Linked DNA regions of Homo sapiens. The protein of the gene in region 2 interacts with the protein of the main gene of each other region in a pairwise test. Each region holds a gene or a part of one and is shown on either strand. Other genes may lie near its edges.

Region 1 (3,500 bases), on a different chromosome or scaffold from region 2:
TAGAGTTTCCAGTTTTTCTGTTCTGTTTTTTCCCCATCTTTGTGGTTTTATCTACTTTTGGTCTTTGATGATGGTGATGTACAGATGGGTTTTCGGTGTGGATGTCCTTTCTGTTTGTTAGTTTTCCTTCTAACAGACAGGACCCTCAGCTGCAGGTCTGTTGGAATACCCTGCCGTGTGAGGTGTCAGTGTGCCCCTGCTGGGGGGTGCCTCCCAGTTAGGCTGCTCGGGGGTCAGGGGTCAGGGACCCACTTGAGGAGGCAGTCTGCCCGTTCTCAGATCTCCAGCTGCGTGCTGGGAGAACCACTGCTCTCTTCAAAGCTGTCAGACAGGGACATTTAAGTCTGCAGAGGTTACTGCTGTCTTTTTGTTTGTCTGTGCCCTGCCCCCAGAGGTGGAGCCTACAGAGGCAGGCAGGCCTCCTTGAGCTGTGGTGGGCTCCACCCAGTTCGAGCTTCCCGGCTGCTCTGTTTACCTAAGCAAGCCTGGGCAATGGCGGGCGCCCCTCCCCCAGCCTCGCTGCCGCCTTGCAGTTTGATCTCAGACTGCTGTGCTAGCAATCAGCGAGATTCCGTGGGCATAGGACCCTCCGAGCCAGGTGTGGGATATAGTCTCGTGGTGCGCCGTTTTTTAAGCCGGTCTGAAAAGCACAATATTCGGGTGGGAGTGACCCGATTTTCCAGGTGCGTCCGTCACCCCTTTCTTTGACTCGGAAAGGGAACTCCCTGACCCCTTGCGCTTCCCAGGTGAGGCAATGCCTCGCCCTGCTTCGGCTCGCGCACGGTGCGCGCACCCACTGGCCTGCGCCCACTGTCTGGCACTCCCTAGTGAGATGAACCCGGTACCTCAGATGGAAATGCAGAAATCACCCGTCTTCTGCGTCGCTCATGCTGGGAGCTGTAGACCGGAGCTGTTCCTATTCAGCCATCTTGGCTCCTCCCTATTCTGTGGTCTTAAAGCATCTATCTCAGTCTTTTTCTACTTATACACTCAAGAAACTAGCCTGGAGTATTGGCATGATTTATTATGGACAAGAATTTTCCAATTCGTTTAGAGTGACAGGGCCCAAAATCCTTAGTTGTAAAGGAGTGCGACAAGAACTATATCATCCTAAATAAATTCCAAAATCAGAAACTCAATAATAGCTTCAAACTATTCCTAAAAGTCTTCACATTTATTTTAGCAAAATATACTTAGAGAATTTACATCTTTCTTAATTGTTTACTGTAAATCAGAATCCCCCCGACACACCTGAGAGCTATGGTCCCTGCTGGTGTGCATTTCCACATCAAACATGATCTGCCCATCTTCTTGTGGCGAAGGGCTAGAAGAGAAGGAATTCAGCTATTAGTTTTAATTCTCACTTTGTCAAATGACTTAGTCTCTACTAGAAATTAGAAAATTAAAAGTTACAGCAGTATGGCTTTGAAAAAGCAAATCAGAGAATATATCATAACCCTATACAAGAAAAATTTATGTGATATTAAAAGGCTAAATGAAATTGAGCATTCTTACTCCCAAAATGTTCTGCACTTTTTCAGTAGTAATGAAATCCTTCAAAATGATAAATTTGCAAAGGAAATACTATCTACAGACACAAACTGTCACATTCTCTTATATTTACTCTTTTGTCCACTAAAGGTAAAATAATCTTCAAATTCAGGAACTTCAGAGTTCTTTTTCTCAAAGTTCCCTCATCATTAAATAATTCACCAGTAGTTCTCAAAGTGCATAAGGTAGTTCTCAAAGACGCTTTCAGAGGGTCTTTGAGGTTACAGTTCCTTTCTCAATACTAGTAGGATTTATTTGCCTTTTTCATTCTCATTCTCCCATGTGTATAGTGGAATTTTCCAAAGGCTACATGATGTGTGATAGCACAACAGTTAGAATGCAAACACAGATGAGAACCAGCTGTCTTCTATTAAGCTTGGTATTAGAGATTTGTAAATGTGTAAAACAATGCCACTATTCTTATTAACTTGGAGGGTTTATAGAAAATAGGTATTTTCACTAAAAAATGCTACTTATGTTAAAATGTATTATTTTTGAATGAATATATATTTTCTCAGTTTTAATTTCTAATATAGTAAATATCAAAATATATAAACCCACAAACAAGTTTTTTGGGGTCCCTAATGATTTTTAAGAATGTAAAGGTATGTAATGACCAAAAACTTTGAGAACCACTATTTTACTTATTTCAGAAATATTTGCTTTGAGATATTTCAGAGTGAATTATATAACTTATATATTAATATAAAACCTTTATGATTGCACAAAATACATTCTTAGAACTGTAAAAATTTACAAATAAGTTTTTAGACAAAAACAACATGATCACAAACTGCACTTGATACAAGAGATGAACAGAATGTGCTAAGTTAATTTCTTAGCTTTATTAATGATTTCTTGTATAAAAACTGAAAGTCACTGGGGATCCTTCACTACATACACAAACCCTCCCCCAAAATCTAAAATAGAAATAAAAAATATTTGGGGCTTAACTTGCTGAAAAGAATAGATATTAACTATTAAAGTTATCAAGAGTATGTATATAATGTTAATTAATGTATAGAGACGTTGGTGAGACTGACTCAGAAATAAGATCGTCAGAAATTTATCAGACAGATTAGGCCTAGGAGTCTTTTAGACTAGTATAATTGACATAGGAGATTTTTAAATGGGGACAGGAAAACAGAAAAGCTGGTTCTGTATCAAACCAACGTCATATATATTTAGGAAATTTTTGTCTTGAACTAGCACAGGAGTCAACCCGAACTGGGCACTCCTACTGGCCTCAGTTTACTATCTTTGTGCTCATAACTGTTGGGTTCACAGCTACACATCAAGTTAAGGGTCAGCCTTACATAGCCGTGACCAGGTCAAGGCAGTCAGGGTGACAAAGTCAAGAATCCTATGGAAGCATTGCTCTGCTTCTATATGCTTCTTCACACTGGTACCAACCTCTTCTCTAAACTGTTTACTCCTCCTAACAATTTGGAATGCATTAGAGCTTCACCCATGGCACATATTAGAATCGGCTGGGGAGCTTTTAAAATATTGTGACGTCTCTACCCTGCCCCTGTCAACCAAAATGAGAAGTTCTTGAGATGCAGTCCATGTGCTGCCATTTTTAAAAGCTTCTGGGTGAATCTAGTGTGCCGTCAAGGTGAAAACCCCTGTGACAGGGTGAAAGGCAAAGCAGAACACACTGGGGTTCCCAGCTAACAACCCCTGCGGCAACACAAATATTTCTATGGAATAATTTTTAAGTTGAAAATATACATAAATCAGCTCTAGGACTGATACCCAACAACCCTAAAACATTTCCCCCTACAAGAAACACTTTCCAATTACTTTTCACATATAGAGACGCATGGCAATTCAGATGATGTGAGTTTTGAAGACACTCCTCAATGGTAAAGCGTGTTAGTAGGCTATCCCAGAAGACTCGAGTTCTAGCCATTCTCTGAAAGATGACCACTAATCTAGGGCCTGGA
Region 2 (3,500 bases):
TGGGATCTGTGACAAGGCACATAAAATCTCTAAGCTTCAGTTCTCCATGTGCCCAACCAATAAGAGAGTTGTGCAATATAGCTGCAAATATTCATAATGGCTCCGAGATGCTATCATTCTATGATTTATATTTACTATTGCTGAGATCTCTGCTAAAAGTGACAAGTTCAACTGAGGTACTATCTTTGTAAAGTTTTACGAGGCAACTGAGGAAGACTTAGAAGACAACAACCACTGAAGGGATTAGAAATCAGGACTATTGGGGATTTGAGACAGATTAGTATAATATAAAATTGTTTCACTTCAAAACATCATACCCAACTCATAAGGCCCTTCGACTCTTTCTTTCCATGATCAATTAAAAGAAAATATCTACTTCATATATTGCTAATGGCAATGTAAAGTAGCACAGCTGCTTTGGAAAATAGTCTTGCAGTTCCTCAAAATGTGAAACACAGACTAAACATACAACCCAGCATTTCCATCCCAGGTTAAATGAAGACATATGTTCACACAAAAGTTAGTACGTGGATGTTCAAAGCAGCAATATCTATAATAGCCAAAAATGGAAATAACTTAAATGTTCATCAACTAGTAAACCAAAGGATAGATGATAAGGAATATTGTTTGGCAATAAAAAAGAATGATGTACTGATGCATATGCTATGACACGGATGACCCTTAAAAACATTACGCTAAAGAAAAGAAGCTAGTCACAAAATGACATCATATATTGTATGATTGCATTTATATATAAAATGTCCAGAAAAGACAAATCCACAGAGGCAGAAGTAGAGTGGTGATTTCTTGTGGTTGGTGGAGGGATGGTGGAACAAGCTACATAGTTTCTTTCTTGGGTAATTAAGAACATTTTAAAGTTAGATTGTAGTGATGGTTGCACAATTCTGAGAACAAGTTGAATACAAGTTGTGAGAACAAGTGAAAAATGGTTCCTCATTGGGGGTCATGAAAAAGCCTATGAATGGTGGAAGCCATTTACTGTGATGGGAATGGCTAGAAAGAGAAGATTCTGTCTTAGGCTTGAGTTTTGTACATTCTCATTGGACATGAAGCAAAGACGTCAAGTAGTCAGGTGAGTATGTCAAGCACTGATGCAAGCACTGGAGATCAACAGTATATACAACAGCCAAGTTCTGTGCTGATGGATCTTATATCCCTCCATGCAATGATTAGGGCAATTTTAGAATTATCAATCCAAACATGTATTTAAACCTCATGTGATTAGATGAAAGAGCCTAAGGATTGGCTGCAAATGGAGGAGAAAACACTAAGGATTGAGGCCTCCGTTACTCCAACACTGTGTTGAGTCAAGTATTCTGGGTAAGCATGCTACCCTAGATGCTATATGCTTCTATCATTGTATAACACACTACTAAAACAGTAGAGTTGATAGGTATTTATTTTTAAAAAGAGTTTATAATCATTCCTTCATTCTTTATATAGTAATTCTTTTACAAGAAGAAGAAAAGCCTACAGCTGGCTCAGGAAGTCCTTTCAGATACTTTCCCTACCGCCCGCCTCCCTCCCCCAACATTGGGTGTTCCAAGCCCCTCACAAAGACCTTAAACCCTCAAGTAGTGGCTCAGCTAATAAAGGCACACATGGAAAAAAAAAGAAGAGAAGAAGGAGAAAAGCAATATCTATGCCAATGTATTGATTTAGGTTGATAGATCTATACCTGGAGAACCTTTAAGAAATACAGCAATACTTTTCTTTAGAAATAAATCTGTAAAATGGCACTCTATAAATCTCCACTGTTTGCTTGAACTCAGATATGACGACTTTTACTTGTGTAAACTGGAAAATGATAGGATCCGTGCAAAACATTTTGCATAAAGCTATATATAGTATTGTGGGGTAAAAGTGAGAAAGTCAAAATCCCAGTTGGATATACCTAAAGGTAAAATATTATTCACATTTTTCCTTTAAATGCAGATTTTCTAAATTATCATTCAAGAAACACCCTCACCTATCTTCTTCACTCTTCAAGTGTTTCTCTAATTCCTTTCATTAGATCCAAAAAAGAAAAAAAGAGGAGGAGAATAAGAAAAGGAAAGAGACGATGAATGAGAAGAAGAAAGAGAAGGAGAGGAGAAGGAGGAAAAAAAGGAGAAAAAGGAGAAATAGTAAATAAGATGATAATCTTTTTTTCTAATACTCTTCGAAAACCAAATTGCACATGGGAAGTAAATGTACCTCCTGTAGACTGCCGGAACTATTTCAGCAGATATTACTAGGCACACACACATCCCACATACATCAGCTCCCTTCATTGCTATGTATGTATCCCAACTTATACAATGTGCTTACATATCTATATTTTTATCGTCAAACATGCTATTTTATACAAGCTGCTCAGGGATGAGATGGCCAGAACTGCTCTTTTTATATAATCATTACTTTTTTTTTTTACAATATTTTTGCTTAATGTTCTAAGAAATCCTTTTTTTTTATGGTCCACATGTTGCGTAGCATCAAAGGTTATTCAAACAAAGCCAATTCAAACATGGTATTACTGCATAGCTTCAAAAACACATTTCAGGTTACTTATATATAATTTAAATTCTGAAATAGACTACATATGGCTATGATAATAAGCCCATTACTGAAAAAGAGCACTTTAGCAACATGTATAAACCTCTATGAGATTCTACATCTGCACTATGCACATACATTATCTTTACTATATTTATCTCCCCTAATATCATGTGTGCCACTTTCATTTAAGAATAGTTAAAGGGTAAAGATGAGAAAAACATTCTCATTTTAAAACACCTTTTCACAAGTATTATAAAATTATCAGATTGATGTAATATATGGCATATAGATGTAATTTAAAAGTGTTGCCATAGTTCATATTAATTTCCCATAAATGACTGCAAAACCCTATTCTTATTCAAAAATAAAGAAAAGCTGGAAAACAAAGGCTAACCTTAACATACATTCTCCTATATGATCATACAGAAAAGTCTAGATGTGATTAATCTGCATCAATAAGAAAACCATTATTTACATCCCAAATAGAAAAGTTTATCTACATTTCTCAACTAACTTAATATTTGCTCTCTATGGATTGCTACAGGGACACAATACTGAAAAATTATAAATAATATTAGCAGATAGCTTCTATGAGGTGGCAAAACGCTACCATTTTTCATATACTATAAAAATGCACATATAAATAACCCACCAAGCAAATATCAATGCAAATATATGTATCATTTGTCACTGAATAAAATTAATATCTGTGTCTAGCACAAGGATGGTCAGTATATCTTTGAAATGGTACAGGCTTCTGTACATTTGAAATTCATGTGGAGTATAAGCACACACCTCTAAGAAGAATAAGTAAATAGAAATCATAGAATCCTGGAAGAGTAACAAAGCTTAGAGAACCTACAAACCAACCTCTTCACTATATATGTGAACACTGAGTCTCAAAGTGCTGAAACAGCCTAGAGGGCAGTGTTCTCCACATC

What was found. The genes of interacting proteins can lie anywhere in the genome.
Region 1: the proteins of ROBO2 (region 2) and BNIP3L interact in a two-hybrid assay, tested with the Homo sapiens proteins (one large-scale study listed by BioGRID and IntAct).

Annotation. Positions count from the first base shown.
Region 1 is NC_000008.11:26,393,054-26,396,553, reverse strand, and holds part of BNIP3L (BCL2/adenovirus E1B 19 kDa protein-interacting protein 3-like), read right to left. Parts: intron 1,325-3,500; coding exon 1,252-1,324; intron 1-1,251.
Region 2 is NC_000003.12:77,043,099-77,046,598, reverse strand, and holds part of ROBO2 (roundabout homolog 2 isoform 23 precursor), read right to left. Parts: intron 1-3,500. UniProt on the Homo sapiens protein: Receptor for SLIT2, and probably SLIT1, which are thought to act as molecular guidance cue in cellular migration, including axonal navigation at the ventral midline of the neural tube and projection of axons to different regions during neuronal development.